Regions from separate parts of the Homo sapiens genome. Here region 2 is linked to region 1. Evidence: fine-mapped expression QTL. Tissue or cell type: whole blood. Region 1 holds a variant in brackets; the other region holds the start of a gene. All regions are shown on one strand. Distances are between the middles of the regions.

Region 1 (8,099 bases):
CTCACCAGGCTGCCCACCTTGCTCACCTGGTGGCCTCATGGCCTCCTACCTGTCTCCTCACCTCTGCTCTTGGCCCATCCAGTGCAGAGGTTCTGCAGTCCACAGAGAGGTCTGAAGACAAAACCATGATCCGGGACCAGTAAGTTAAAAAAGCAAGGTAGAGGAAAATGTGCATAGCTATTACCATTTAAGAAGGGAAAAGTGTGTGTGTGTGTGTGTGTGTGTGTGTGTGTGTGTGTGTGTGTGTGTATGTGTTTCCTTATTGTAAAAAAAGATACAATAAATAAAAAATGAACAAATGTGGGGAAGGAAGAGGCCAGGATAGAGGGGATAGAAATAGAAGCTGAACGTCTCAGAATAGACCTCGGTGGATTTGACTTTGAAAGATTTTTACAAAGTTATCTTTTACAATACATTAACAAAGCAAGCCCTGAAAATCAAAAGCAAAAGGGAATCAACGCGTCCGTCTATCAAGTTGGTGACATTGCTACACCGGTGGGAATTATTTTAATTATTTTAAGTGACTTTAAGACGTGATAATTTTACTTACATATTCCTGGTGGGATATAGTCCAAGACCAAAAAGAAAAATCATAACTACTTTCAGTAACCATGTTGTTTGGGATTTATTGGTATTGCTATTTTGAGACTGTTGTTTGTGTCCTATGGAATAAAGCAAATGAATAAGTATTGAGGACCAGGATTATTGGTATGGGAGAAAGGAGACACAGATGTGAAATCAATGATTTCTACTACCTTGTAGTCCTCAATTTGGTTTTAGGTATTAATGTGAACTCCTGATATATGACAACTTTTTTAAAAAATGTATTTCCTAGCTCTATCCATTATAGAGAAATAAAAGACCAGCCCAATAGCACTGAACACCCAAGCCCCTAGGCTATGGCCTCTAAAGACCGTTTCCTACCAAGAGGAATCAGTGCTTCTTAGAGAAAATTTAATTCTAGGTAGGAAATGTACAAGATGAGACCAAAACACTTTGTCACACCAGCAGGCAAATGAACACTCAGAGACGACAGGGTCACACCAACAGGACACCCAGGTCAACTTGAAGATGCTCCCACTGGTCAAAATGGAACAGTTTCTCAGTGTAGCAATTGCAACAGATGGAAATAGATCTAGTAGGTTAGATTCTTCAGGATTCTTTACAAATAAATAAATCTCACGGGTCACCCTTGAGGAAGCTAAGTAACCAACTCATTATTTTGAAAACAGGAAAATAAAGCAAAAGAACTAAGCATTTTCCTGACATTTCTATATGCCCACTGCCTCAAGGTAATATGACGGGAAGTTGCACCTCATAAAGTTTTCCACCTGATAAATGAGGTAGAGGTGATGAAATATTTCTATTTTGTGATCTTTAATGAAATAATGGGTCTAGACAATGATCATTAGTGGCTGCTAACCTCCCAAAAAATTGATAAATAAAAGAGAGACAGTGGCAACGAGAGAGACCAAGAAAAAGAGAGAAAACAGACATTACCCGCATCTAACGAAAGCACCCACCACCCGCCACCTGTGAAGTATTTGCCTCCCCCCATTACACATGATCCTGACCTGGCCTCTGGATCTTACCACCATGTGTAGGATACAAAAGAGAGGGAGACAGATTAAATCTCACCATAGGGAGAAGCCAGCAAAATCCAGTCCTGGGGAAACTGTAGGACCAACGATCTGGTTTCCTCAACACATGAACCACAAGAAGATAGAAAGAGAGGGAGGAACCTCTAAATTCAAGGGGATCTAAGAGCACAATCAGCTGGTGGCAGTGTGTGCCCCACCTTCGGAATCGACTTCTTGCTCAGAGGTCCTGAGGGGAGGGTCCTGAGGAAATGGACTGCTTCCCAAGGCTCTTCCTTCCCTTTGCTGATGGCCTCCCTGTGGGAGTCCTGCAGGCTTGGCTCAGCTCCCAGTCTCTGCACTTCACTTCTGTGTGGCCTTGGCTCAGACACTGAGCCTCTCTGTGCCTCTGCTTCCTCACTTATAAGCTAGGCATGATTATTTTACCTGCCTCAGCGTATGCTTGTAAAGATAAGATAAGCAGTCCCTAACCTTTTTGGCACCAGAGACTGGTTTCCTGGAAGACAATTTTCCCATGGACCCAGGGAAGGAGGATGCTTCCGGGATGAAGCTGTTCCAGCTCAGATCATCAGGCATTAGATTCTCACAAGGAGCGTGCAGCCTCCATCCACATGCGCAGGTCACAACAGGGTCCACACTCCTGTGAGAGTCTAATGCCACCACTGACATCATGGGAGGCGGAGCACTGGAGGCTCTGGCAGTCATGCTCGCCCGGCCACCACTCACCTCCAGCTGTGCGGCCCAGTTCCTAACAGGCCACAGACCGGTACCGGGTTGGGGACCCTGCTTTAAGCAGTCGCTTCTCCTTCCCTGGCCTCGCCCCCAGCAGCCAATAACGTACTTCCTGTCTCTATGGATTTGCCTGTCCTGCATACTTTGTGTCAATGGAAGGAGGTATTATGTGGGGTTTGTGTCCGGCTTCTTTCGCTGAGCATAATGTTTTCAAGGTTCAGCCATGCTGCAGCTCGTATCAGAACCTAGTTCCTTTCAGGGCCAAATAACATTTCACTGTGTGGGTGGACCACGTTTAGCCACTCAGCAGCTGACAGACACTTGGCGGTTGCACTTTGGGGCTGTTGTCAGTGTGCTGCCGGGCACGTCTGTGTGCAAGGCTTTCTGTGGACAGATGTTGATTCTTAGGGTGTCTGCCCAGCAGTGGGATTGCTGGGTCACGCATGCAGCAGCTCTGCTCGCCTTTCTGGAGGCCACGAGCCTGTTTTCCACGGCGGCTCTGCGGGCCTCCTGTTGAGGAAGCCCTGGCGAGTGGGGGCTCCTCTGCCAAGCATTAAATACGGACTCACCACTGGGGACGGACTTGGACTCCAGGAGCCCCCAGGAGGCTCCCTCTGTGCCGACGCCCGTGGGCTGCAGACGGGTGGGTGACTGTGGGACCCTTGCTCAGCCTCCAGCTTTGGGGCTGATGGCTCTGCCCCCAGGGAGTCTGTGCAGCCCTCCTCCAGACCCCAGTCCCCTTGGACCAGGGGCAAAGCTCATTTCCCTCATCCCTCCCGCCCCTAGCCTGCTGGGGTGGGAGGGACGAGGCTCCTGCCCGGCCGGCCCTGGGGCTGGGAGGCAGGTGTGGGAAGTGCAGGTGGGTGGTTTGGTGTGTTTGGCAAGCCGACCCAAACTCCCATTACATGCTATGGAAACCCTTGCAGGCCCCAGATCTCTAAATTTTTTTTCTGTCCCCCACAGCCCTACCTTCATGGGGACTGCCCCCCAACCCCACTCCCGCAGTTCTACCCCCATGCCCCACCCCCACACCCGTTCATGTGACCCAGATCCATCTCCTTGGAGCCCCCCGCCCCCAGGTGAAATTGAGCATGCCTCCTGTTCTCACTAGACAGAGGCTCCGAGGGAGCAGGCGAGTCCTCTCTTGTCAGAGGCCACATCCCTGCACCTGCGCAGCACGGCACATCCTGGGGCTCAGCGTCCTGCGTGGAACATACTCAAGTCCATCCACATCCTCTGCCTCAGAGACAGCAGGCCCTAAGCGTGCTTCCCCGGGACCCTCCCTGGGCTTCTACCGCCTGCCACACTCCACCTGTCCCCCTGCATCCAGGAGGGCAGCACACACCTCCCGGGGCCTCTGCCATCCGGCCCAGGGCCACCACCTCCCAAGGCCCCCCAGGACCTGGCCAGCCCAGGTTGCCCCGTTTCTGCTGCTGGTGAGGTGGGGCTGGGCTGACAGGAACCCCAGGAGATCTGCAGCGGCCCCGCCTCCCAGGCCTCCCCCATGCTGAGCTTGCCCACCTCAACAGACGCCCTAGCGTGTGCTCCGGAGAGACACTGAAATGAACTTGGTCCCCCTTCCTCACCCATTAAGTTCTTCCCCCGAGGCCAGAATCCATCGCAGGCAGGCCCTGCAGAGCGGCAGGAGCGGGCGGCGCTGGCTTCACTCCGCGGTCATTTACTTC[C/T]GCTTCTGGGCGCCCTTTCTTGCCTCTACACATCTTGCTCTTGGTCGCACGTGCTGAGTCTCGGAGCTGCAGGAGCTTGCCAACTGCCCACCTCCGCTCCTCTCTCCTGATGCCCTGTTTGTTGATGGTGCAGGAACCCGCTGCTGCAGTTAGGAAATTGAAATGTCAGTCGGGAGGGCTCCTGGAGTGGGGTTTGAAGCTGAGCTCTGAAGGCCTCGAGGGCAGGGAAAGGGAAGAACTCTGGGAAAGAGGGCCGGGGTCTCGCCCCTCCTGGAGGCACTGGCTACCCTCAACTCTTGGGGGAGCTTTTGTGAATGGAGTTTGCTTGAAATCGATCTTCTCAGCCTCCTCACCAGCCTCACACTGGCGTTATGTCCCTGGTAGACCAGGCGGCCAAAGCTTCCTTCCTGTGGCTGCCCTGACCACATCTGGCACTGGGAACATGCCCTGCACTTGAGGATAAATAAAAGTGAAATTTCAATTAAAAGGATAAATCATGGTGATGGGTCCTCGTGGTGACCAGCAAAGACCTGGCCCACTTCCAGGCTGAATTTCAACTGAGAAGCAGCCATTTCTTTGTAAAAAGTTGTCCATTTTAGCGAGCAGTGAAGTCTCGAGGGAAGAGCCCCAGGCCTCTGTTAGCAGAGCCTGTGCTCAAATCCCTGCACCTGTAGAGCCTGCACCCCCTCCAGGACGGGTGAGTCCCTTGGCCACAGCCAGGCCTGACACCCCGAATGCGCTACTCCCTGACCTTCCATTAATACCAGCTTTTCGCTAGCTTCTGGTCTTATGCTTCACCTGAACCATGCAGCAGGTCCCTGTCCTCATCAAACTTTGATGCCGAACAAAGCAAATGTCCGGCAGGCCACAGTGCAGCCTCCTCCCCCTCAGGACCCCAGGCCCACCCTGCACACCCTCATGTGGTCCCTCCAGGCTCCTGGGCGGGGTGGGGGGACAGGGATTTCTCCGCAACATACCACCCCTGCAGTGGGATTCCCAGCGTTAAGGGGAGAAGGTGTCACTGGCACGTGGTGTGCACAATTCTGAATCCTCCAGCCTCTCCAGCATTTGCCTTCATTCCCACAGAGGCCGAGAGGCTCATGGCTTCCAGAAGGCTATGAGATGTGGCACAGGCACCCGACAGGTAGGACTGGCTGGAAGCCTCGGGCCTGGGCAGGAGCGGCTGGAGCCTGCCTGCATCCACTTCCTCCTTCCATCTCCTTTGACCAGGAGACCACCTTGCCCACTCATCCTGCAAGTTGGGTGGATGCTGCTGCCAACCCAGGCCTGGTAGATGTACCCATTCCAACCTCCAGCCATGGCAGCTGCTTCAAGGCTGGGGTAAGAGCCAATGAGTGTCTGCCCCAGGACATTTGACGGAGCTGTCTGGAAACAGCCACCTTCCCTACTGAGGCAGGGAGCTGGTGGGTCAGAGCAGGGGCACTGGGGCCAGGACACCTGGGTTCTGGATCCCAGCTCAAGGGCTTGTGAGCTGTGTGATCTTGGGTGAGTGACTCAACCTCCCTGTGCTGCAGTTTCCTCATCTGTAACAGGGAAGGGCTGCATATGAATGGCCTTGTCTGTATTAACGGCACTGCCTTGGGTTGTGGTGATGAGTAAGTGAGTGGATGGATGTAATGTGACTAGTGTACTAGTTCATTTTCACACTGCTGTAAAGATACTATCCAAGACTGGATAGTTTACAAAGGAAACAGGTTTAATTGACTCACAGTTCCACAGGGCTTGGGAAGCCTCAAGAAACTGACAATCAGGGCAGAAGGCGAAGGGGAAGCAAGGACCTTCTTCACATGGAGGCAGGAGAGAGAAGTGCGAGCAGGGGACACGCCAGACACTTATGAAACCATCAGATCTCGTGAGACTCACTCACTCTCATGAGAACTGCATGGGGGAACTGCCCCCATGATCCATTCATCTCCCACCAGGTCTCCCTCTCAACACCTGGGTATTACAATTCAAGATGAGATTCGGGTGGGGACACAAAGTCTAACCATACCACCTGGGGTACTGCCTGGCACTGCAAACTAGTTAGGGAAGCATCCGTTGTCATTACCATCATCACTGGTTCTACGACCTCTTATTTCTGTGCCCCTGACACTGATGCTATTACTAGTACTGTCAAAATTGTAATGTCAGCCTATTGCTGTTACCCCTGGGGCTGCTAGGCTGATGGGATGTAAGCACAGAAGTGTGAGGCAGCAGAAGGGGAGAGAGTACCTGCGAGTCTGAGGGGTGGGCTGAGCAAGTGCTGAGAGCCCCGTCAGAATGGTCACCCTCATAATGGACTGAGCACGGTACTCAGCCCCCATGAGTGAGTGAACACAGTACTCAGCCCGCATGATCCAGCCATGCCTGAAACCCACACCACTCCAGGATAGGAGCCAGCACATTGCCTTTTTGCTTGAGCCAGTTACATTGGGATTTCTGACGTTTCCAATGGACGAGACCTAAAAGTGCCATCATGCAGTAAAAACCTAAATTAAATCATTTTATTCTTGTGGTCTGGGACCTCCAGGCTGGATATACAGATATTTATTGCCCCTTGTCCCTTGTTTCATTCAATCATCCACTCTGGTTTGCAGAGCACTTTCTGTGTGTCTACTAGTATGCAGAGCTCTCCGGGGGAGACAGCAAACATAGTATTCCGGCATTATTACTGATTAAATTAATGATTAAACCAATATTCAGCCCACATTTAGTGACATAGCATAGTACTCAGGCCTCATTACTGACAACACAAAAAGCCCAGATTTATTCACAAACATCAGTATTCAGCCTTCATTTATTGACAAAGCTCAGTATTCAACCCACATTACTAAGCAAGAGTACTCAGCCTTCATTACTGACTGAGCACAGTACTGAGCCCTCATAACTGACCAAGCACAGTACTCAGCCCTTATAACTGACTGAGCACAGTACTCAGCCCCCATGGTGACTGAGCACAGCACTCGGCCATCAGCATCGAATTACAGACACTGCAGATCCTCAGTTACCATCTTTCATATACTCTTGGCAACAGCTCTGCAGGCTGGATTTAAAAAATCCCATTTCCAGATGAGGAGATAAAACCATTTCCCAAAGTGAAGAGCCAGTGAGGAGGCGCCCCCTCCTCTTCGTCTATGGGAGCACTGCCTGGAGGCACAGGGTGCAGGAGTGGGAGACATCCATTCTGGCAGGTCTCCTTCCTATTGGCCCAGCGTGGGTCACATGTCCTTCCTAGCCAATCACAGTGCCCAGGGAGGTGCACTCTCATTGGTCCACGTGGGGTCCCATGGCTGTCCTGGGGCCAGGTGGGATGGTTCCCCCACACAGTCCATGCAGAGCAAGGGTGGGCCGGGGTGATTTCCAAAGACTGGCAGAAGTGGGTCTCGGCAGGCAAAGCCAGGGCTGACGGCAACCTCCTTCTCGGGCCTGACTCCAGCCTCATGGCTTCCTTGCTGCCCCTAAATGCCCTCCTTTGCTGCCCCTTGCCCCCCCTCACTCAGCTGCCTCTCCTTCTGGGGCCTGTGGCCTAGGATCTGGGGCCTGGGGTCTGGGGTCTGGCCTCCATCTTTTCTGCTGGACACTGGCCCCCTTGGGCTCCCACTACACCTGCACCTGTGCTCCAGCCCAGGCAGGGTCTAAGCTCCCTGCATCTTCCAGCCCGGCCCCCAAGGGACAGGACCCTGCTCCCGTATCCCCAGCAGTGTGGCACATTTACAGGGGCAGACAGGTCCTGTTAGAGGAAAGTAGACGCTGTGTGACAAGACCTTCCAGAGACAGGTGGGGACGCGTGCATTAAATATCAATGAAGGTTTTCTGACGAGACTCCTGACTTCTCATGTTGGAGCCAGAAAATGACAGGGACTAATCAGGGGATGGCATGGGCGACACCTCTGAGGGCGAACACGCTGCGCTACAGGTTGACACTTGGCGCTGCCTATCCCCGCAGCCTCACGGGCTGAAACAACAAAGAACCCGTCTCGGCTTTGGACTTGGCTTTAGCTGTGTGGCTCTCTGATAGGCAGGATTATTCCTAGCCCGAGTCAGAAGCAGAAGCTGCCTCCACTCTGGCTTCTGTGCAGTG
Region 2 (8,099 bases), 110 kb before region 1:
ACACTTCACCGTGGCTCCAGGCAGCAGCAGCCCCAGTGCCAGCTGGGGCTCTGGAGGTGGCTTCTTTTGCTGTCACTGTGCTCGGCTGGAGCTGTAAAGGGGCAGATGCTCCTCACCTGTGAGCCACCCCTTGGCTGGAGCTGTAAAGGGGTAGATGCTCCTCACCTGTGAGCCGCCCCTTGGCTGGAGCTATAAAGGGGCAGATGCTCCTCACCTGTGAGCCGCCCCTTGGCTGGAGCTATAAAGGGACAGATGCTCCTTCCCTGTGAGCCTCCCCTTGGCTGGACCTGTAAAGGGGTGGACACTCCTCACCCATGAGCTGCCTCTTGGCTGGACCTGTAAAGGGGTGGACGCTCCTCGCCTGTGAGCCTCCTCTTGGCTGGAGCTGTAAAGGGGTGGACGCTCATCACCTATGAGCTGCCTCTTGCCCTGAGCTGGGGCTTTGGGGGCAGGACCCAGCAGGAGGAAGTGTCCCATCCTCACTGGAGGTCTGAGTGCTGCTTTTCACCTGTCCACAGGCACCCACTAAGGTAATCCCCATGGGCTTGTCTACAGAATAGTGCAGGCTTGTGTCCCGCAAAGAAAGACTCACCAAAGCCCTTCGCTTCATCTAATAGCTGAGGTTGGATCAAGTGTGGTGTTCACACCTGTAATCCCAGCACTTTGGGAGGCCGAGGCAGGAGGATCATCTGAAGTCAGGAGTTTGAGACCAGCCTGGCCAACATGGTGAAACCCCATCTCTACTAAAAATACAAAAATTAGCTAGGTGTTTGGTGGGTGCCTGTAATCCCAGCTACTAAGGAGGCTGAAGCAGGAGAATTGCTCAAACCTGGGAGGCAGAGGTTGCAGGGAGCTGAGATCCCACCACTGTACTCGAGCCTGGGCAACAGAGTGAGCCTCTATCTCAAAAAAATAAATAAATAATAAATAAAATCCAAGGTCCTTGATGTATAACTGACCTTGAGGCTGTGGAATGTGGTTCTTGGGCAGGCATTCACCAGGTAGAGGAAACCCTCTGCACCCTCGTCATGGCCCACTGGCTGCCAGTGCCAGCAGCTTCTTCCCATCCCTGCTCCTCAGCATGCTGGGCCATGAGCAGGGCAGGGCGTCAGGGCAGGGTGGCAGGAGCAGCTCCTCCTGCTTGGCAGAGATGAGTAAAGCACTCAACATGCACCAAGTCCCCCTTGACTTGTCCCCACTGCTGCTGCTGTCACAGGACAAAGGCAGGGGAGCGGGAGCAGCCCAGGACAGCCACAGGGCCATGAGCACCATGCCACCGGGAGCTAGTGACAACACAGGGTGGACAGGACAGAGAGTGGCCCAGTACTGGGCAGGACCAGCCACAGACGCTGCTGCTCTCTGAGCACGGGGACTCTTTGCAGTGGCGCCCATCACTTGGGCAGCTGGAAGCACAGTTTCCCCCCACAGATATTTCGTGGGGTTTTTTTGGTTTTTGGTTTTTGGTTTTTTGTCGTTGTTTTTTTGTTTGTTTGTTTGTTTTTTTGAGATGGAGTCTCGCCCTGTCACCGAAGCTGGAGTGCAGTGGTGCGATCTTGGTTCACTGCAACCTCTGCATCCTGGGTTCAAGTGATTCTCCTGCCTCAGCCCCCTGAGTAGCTGGGATTACAGGCGCACACCACCACACCTGGATAATTTTGAATTTTTCATAGAGGCAGGTTTTCACCATGTTGGTCAGGCTGGTCTCGAACTCCTGACCTTAAGGTGATCTGCCGGCCTCGGCCTCCCAACGTGCTGGGATGACAGGCGTGAGCCACCATGTCTGATACTTGGTTTTAATAAGTGTGCATCACCGCCCTGCCCCCCGCCCCCAGCCCCCAGTGTGCTCAGGTAGCCGTGAACCAGGTGTTGGGCTAGTTTAGTGGAAGGGACTGACATGGAGACAGGAGAGTGGGCTCTGGCACTGTGAGGGAGGCCGAGGAGCCCACCGCCTGAGGTCAAGTCCTGCCTGTGCCACAGAAGGCCCTGATGTCCCCTACAACCTCACACATCACATCCTCAGCACCCTACCAATGCTGGCCTCTGTGGGTAGCGTCCCCTGTGAAGGGATGCGGCCCTTTACTGTAGCCACGCTGACCTGGTCCCAGAGAAGGCAAGGGAGCACCCACACTGTGGGGGTGGGGCTGGTTAGGACCCACCCGGAAGACTGAGCCGCTGGGTCCTGCTGCCTTCCCCAGGGCAGGGTGAAGGGTATATGCTGTCCAAGGGGCCCTGCCTTCCAGACCCCACTCTGCCTCCGGGGGAAGCCCAAACCTGCCCTTCTCGGCATCCCTGCCTCTCCTGTAAGGCGCTGCCAAGCCACACTCGAGTCACTGTTCTTCCTGGATCATGCCAAGGGTGGGAGCCTGGTCCCTCTGGGTGTTGAAGGAGATAATTCAGGTGTGATGAAAAGGAATGCTCCTCTCTGGCTCTGGACACACCCAACACAGAAGGAGGCAGGTGCCTGCTAAGGCTGACGCTGGTTAGAGGCAGTGCCAGGACAGTGCCGTCCCATATCCCAGGCCGTGCTTCCCTTCCTGGAACAGGCCAACCTCGATCACAGCCAAGCACCACCTGCACAGGCTCACAGGGCAGAGCGCTGCAGGGGCTACCCGACTGGGTGTCCTAAGGTGAACAGAAGCCTTTCAATGGGACATTAACTTGAACCGAAGCCAGAGGAGCCTGCATGACACTGTGTGAATTAGCTTACTCAACTGAAACAGGGCATTTGAGTGCAGGAGACACTAGGCTAACAGGCCACCCTACACCCCTGCACACACACACTCTCACCAGCTGCGGAGGAGGCTGCACCCACCATCCCGGGCTCCCAGCGACAGCTGGCTCTATCTTGGACTTCACTGTTCCTGCTGTCAGGCTGGGGATGGAACTCTCTGTCTGCTGCTTGTTGGAGCTCTTCCAGCCCAGGGTGTTGGTTAGTGGGTGAAGCAGGGGTCTTCTCTCCTCGCCCTGCCCCCTGCCCTGCACCAGATGAAAGAGCACACTCAGCATCACGAGTGGCTCTAAGTGTGATGAGAGAAGGACCCTCCCTGGCCACACTCGTGCTAATAGGAAGTGCTGGCGAAAGCAAATGATCAAAATCGTATCCCAGCCTCTTCATGTCACCTGCAGCCAAATGGCTTTGCATCTGAAAGCCACACATAATTGTCAGCATCCATGGGTTCTAATCAGAGATTTTTTTTTTTAAGTCTTGGTAGTTTTTGTTCATTGCTAATACAGAGAAGGATGCAAGCCACTGTTTAGTGTCTGGATGTAAAAGAACATTTCTGTGCCGTGTGGCCTCATTGCAGAATCTTCCAAGGTACGAGTCAGCCACGGAGGCCTGTGAGGTTTTTATTCCTTGCTTTCAAAAACACAAGCTGTTTTTCCCCTGGAAGAGCATGTAATGTGCAAAAACATTAGCAATATTGCAAAATGCTTGCGTGAAATAACTGTGGAAATATTTCACTAACTACATTAACCTTCGCTGGCTTTTCTTCCCCTCCCAACCCAAAGAGAGATAATTTCTCGGGAGTCTTTATCTCGTTCCTCTGTATAATTGCCGCTTTAAATCACAAAAGCCTTTAGAGTTATGGATGCAAAACGCATGGAGCTATGTTTAGGCTGTGCTCACCTGCAAAGCTGTGCGATCCAATGTCCCCCCAGAAGAGAAACCAAAGGAAGAGCGTGGGGAAAGCTGGTGTCTCTCTCGAGGTGTTTCCGAGCAGCCGTGTTAATATCATACGACAAGATGGGGCCCTGTCTCTCGTCACTTCCTTTTGTTCTTTCCTTCTGAAGAGTGGATAATTCCTGGCAGTTTCTGTTTCGCTTGTAATTGTTTTTTAAATTAAGATAAACCTTGCAGCCCTGACTGTTGAGATGAAGGCGCGGCTGGTGGGGAAGCACCTTGCTTTTGTGAACAGCAGAAAAGGTGATAAGACATTGCGGTGTGCTCCCTCCCAGAGTTTAAGCACCGCAGTTACCACTTTGCACCATGCTCATGGGTGAGCGGGCGTCTTCCTTCTTGCAAGTTCCTCCCATGTCTCAGTAACGGAGAAGGAGGCGGTAGTGGAGGGCAGTCGGCGGTGGGGGTTGGGGAGTGCCGCCTGCTGTTTGGCAGCATCGCCCGTGTGTCTGCAGGGCCCTCCTGCCTTCGGGTGGAGGGCATGTTCACGTAAGTTGACTCATGTTTTGGGCGAACGTTGGTGGTGAGAGGAGCTGAAGTCTCCCCATCTCTCAAGGATGCAGCAGCCAGGTTTAGTTCTGTGCTCTATGGGCCGCACCTCCTGGCCCCCCATCCTGCTCCGGATTCCACAGCTTGGTCTTGACTCACCAGGAAGCAGGGCAGCAACTTGAGAGTGATGCAGGGGACACGTGCAGGGGTGCAGAGTGTAGGGGTGCAGGGGTGCGAAGTGTAAGTGTGTAGGGGTGCAGGGATGCAAGATGTAGGGGTGCAGAGTGGAGGGGTGAAGGGGTGGAGAATGCAGGGGTGTAGGGGTGCAGGGATGCAGAGTGGAGGGGTACAGAGTGGAGGGGTATGGGGTGCAGAGTGTAGGGGTGCAGGGGTGCAGAGTACAGGGGTACAGAGTAGGGGTGTACAGTGCAGGGGTGCAGCATGCAGGGGTGCAGAGTGCCATTCCTAAGCCATCGTCTTGTGTCTGTGTTCTGTGTATTTGCTTGCATGCTTTTCTCTCCAGCGTGATTTTCTGATCCGTGGATACACACAGGCTCCTCCCTATTCAGCTAAACCTCCCAGCTGCCTCTAAAAGCTGGGGATTGTAGGGGTCGGGGAGGCGTGTTCTCTCATTGTACCATCACATTGAATTGTCTCAAACACCCTGCCAGGTAGAGGTGGTTATTTCCCTTTGACATGAGACAGTAACCATTAGCTTGGTGGCTTCCCTTGGTCCAGTGAGTCATTAAACCTGACTTGTTGGCTACAGGCGAGTGCCTGGTGGTTTCTGGGCATTGTGCTTGGTCAGATCCGACGTTCCGAGGGTTCAGCTCTCCAAGGCCACACCATGTGTCCCCCCGGCTCCCTGCCCTGAGCTCCTCCCGAGGTAGCTTGCCACTCTTGCACCCTCCAGTAGCTCTAGCACAGAGTAGGAGCTAAGCGCACAGTGGGACTCAGTGACCTGAAGCGGGAGGTGAATTGAATGCCTCCAGGATGAGTATGTCTCTTCTCAGCAGCCAGAAGGGTCCAGTCCAGAGGCTGCCCTTCACTGAGAGCATGCTTTGCTCTCTAAGGAAAGCCCAGAGCTTTCTTTCACCATCTTCTAATGTGCATTCAGCAGAAGCTGTAACTCACTAGAAATGGATGGAATTAAGGCCAGGCATGGTTGGCCAGGCTGCTGGACAGTCCTCTCCAGAAGAGGAGCCCACCCCGGCCTGGAGGATGGACACCAGGGGCTCTCCCTCTGCCTCCAGCCCTCCTGCTTCTCAGTGTCTAAATCATCAGAAAAAAAATCATTTCTGGTTCATTGACCTTTCTGCAAATTATAATTTACACCCAAGGGTAAAATGTCATATAACTTTTATGCATTTAGCTGGGCTTTTTCACTGCTATCTTAAAAAACAATTCTTTATCAAGACTTCATGTCAGAATTGCACAGGGATAATTACCTCAGGAGAAACGCTTCATTTGCATAATGCACCATGCACATTTCCCCTTGGGGCAGTGTTGTTGAGGGCTGGTGATATGCTTCTCTGGAAGGGGGCATTGGTGAGGCTTGGGGATCGGTCAAGGACCTCGTGAAGTATCAATCACCTCCAAACTGACTTCATTACCAGCTTTTTTCCCCAGCCACAAATTAAATCATCAGAGTGGATATTGGATGGGCAGGAATCTTGACAAATTCCTGCAGGACCCGGCCCGCTGTGTGGCATCCCTTCCCTGGCTGTGGGAGGCTCCATGGCCCACACTCTCCATTGGCCCTTTCAGAGAAATGGGGTGTGCTGGAGAGTGGGGGCCCTGGGCTCTTTCCTGCTCAAGGACAGAAGACAGAAACCTCACAACCTCCACCTTCAGGCACCTCACCGTCCAATGTGAGAGAAAGAACAAACTGAGATTGCACAGAGATTTAGGAAGCCTTTGCAGAGAAACATACAGACAAGCACGCCCCAGGCCAAGAAGAAATGGCAGATTATTTTGGAAGTATCCATTAAAATTACTTCTTTAGATGCAGGACCTGCTTTGGGGTTTTTTTTCTTTGTAAGTGACATTGTATTTATTGCAGAAAAGAAGCCATGGTTGGAAAGTCAGGACTATCTCTCAATGCTGTGGAAGGGCTGCTGATGAACAACAGAGACGACCTCTAGCCCAGCGTGCTGGTCATGCCAGCCGCCGTCATCAGCACTCACTGCTACACACATGTTGACATATCCTTGGCACAGAGCCCACTCATCCTTCCAGAAGTGAGGAAGGATTTCACCTCCTCAGGCCTCTGAAGTTAGAGGCGACCACATGACTTGTCTTGGCCAATGAAATGGAAGCAGGACCCAGGTGCATCCCCCCAGGAGGGGCCTTACCAGGCTGTGTCTAATCCCTTGTGGCCAGTCTCTGCACTGGCCATCGTGGAAGCAGAAAAACAAGCCTCTTCCACTCTGTCCCAAGGACTCTGCAGGGCAGGGCGCCCCCCCACCCCCCACGCATGCACAGTGGACATGTCATGTGCATGGACCAGCATCACGCTCTGCTCTTTCAAGTGACAAGATCTGGGAGCAGTTTGGTACTCCTAACCCAGCCTGCACTGACAGATACACCCTGAATTTCCAACAATGCCTTTCATCCAAGGAAAGCAGAAATTTTGTGGGGGTCCCGTGATCACCTCCCCTCTAGGACTTCTCAGACCCTCTGATGTGCATTGAAAATTTCCAAGAAGAGAGAAGACGTTCCTGGGACGATGCTGTTGTGACCTGAGAGTATCCGCTGATTCTTTCCTCGTGCTCTTTAGAAACAGGATTTGGATCAGGAACGGCCACCACAGACATCCTGGGTCCTGCTTGCTTTGGACTGACCCCTGGCTGAGGAAGAGGACGCTGTAGAAGACATTAGAAAGTGGAATGGTGATTTTCCTTCTGCACAAGGGCAGACCTCACTCTTCATCACCGATCACCATGAGTCTGGTCATGTGTCCCCGACTCCCAGAGGATCAGAGTCCTTGTTTTTCCCGAAGAAGTCCTCAGCAATATCCTCACACGGCTTCATGGAGCCCTGGTCAGCCTGGAGGGAAGTGGACCCTTGGTCTCAGTGGTGGCTGCTCCCCTGCCCAAGGGCAGCCTCACTGGGTGAGGAGCCCCTGCACCTCCTCCGGACCCCCGTCCTGGCTCCTCAGCACCGGGCAGGCCCCTCCCGGGGCCCTCTGAGCACCGTGCGCCATGGGGCAAGCAGTGCAGCTGCCGTTTAAATGAGTGGGTTCTGGCTCTGTCGTTTTCCTCCCCAGGGCCTGCAGCCTCCTCCGGGCTTGGCTTCCCTTTGCTCAAGGCAGGGTTGGCCTGGGCCCTGCTGAGGGACTGGGCATGATGGGCACCTGAGACCCTAGGAGCTTCCATCCTCACTTTACAGATACCCCAAGCACCTGCTCTTCTCGAGGGTTCCCTGAACAGCTCAAAAATGCATGAGAAGTGAACGCACCTGGGACAAGAGGGCTGACAGGGAGAGGTTTCCTGGGCAGGGCTGTGCGGTGCAGAGAGAAGAGAAAATCTATTTGCATTTCCTGAGTTACTTCTTATTTACTCTAGAAAACATAGTTGGCAGCCAACCAGAGTGTGTTTACAGAGGGATCTGGGCTGGGAAAATTCAGGGTCATCTTTGGATTCAGCCCTAGAAACCTGGAAGTGAACATGAGCCAGACGTGCAAGCGGCTGGCGGCTCCATGCGGCAGGTGGGGTGGGTCCCCATGCAGGGGGCACAGGATGGAGGCTCCATGTGGCAGGGGGGTAGGTCCCCATGCAGGGGGCACAGGATGGAGGCTCCATGTGGCAGGGGGGTAGGTCCCCATGCAGGGGGCACAGGATGGAGGCTCCATGTGGCAGGGGGGTAGGTCCCCATGCAGGGGGCACAGGGTGGAGGCTCCATGCGGCAGGGCGGGTGGGTCCCCATGCAG

The links. PIP is the estimated chance that this variant, and not a neighbour inherited with it, causes the effect.
Region 2: it holds the start of CDH4-AS2, and the variant in region 1 is fine-mapped to the expression of CDH4-AS2 in whole blood (INTERVAL, PIP 0.92).

Annotation. Positions count from the first base shown.
Region 1 is chr20:61,826,762-61,834,860 of GRCh38, forward strand. All of the region lies in intron 4 of CDH4 (cadherin 4), which reads left to right. Among named protein-coding and RNA genes, the nearest start is that of CDH4-AS1, 76 kb to the left of the region's middle. The variant C/T (reference allele first, on the strand shown) is at 4,016.
Region 2 is chr20:61,716,002-61,724,100 of GRCh38, forward strand. It overlaps CDH4-AS2 (CDH4 antisense RNA 2), which reads right to left and starts at 3,747. Exons shown (of 2, transcript NR_147702.1): 1 at 3,629-3,747; 2 at 1,505-3,385. All of the region lies in intron 2 of CDH4 (cadherin 4), which reads left to right.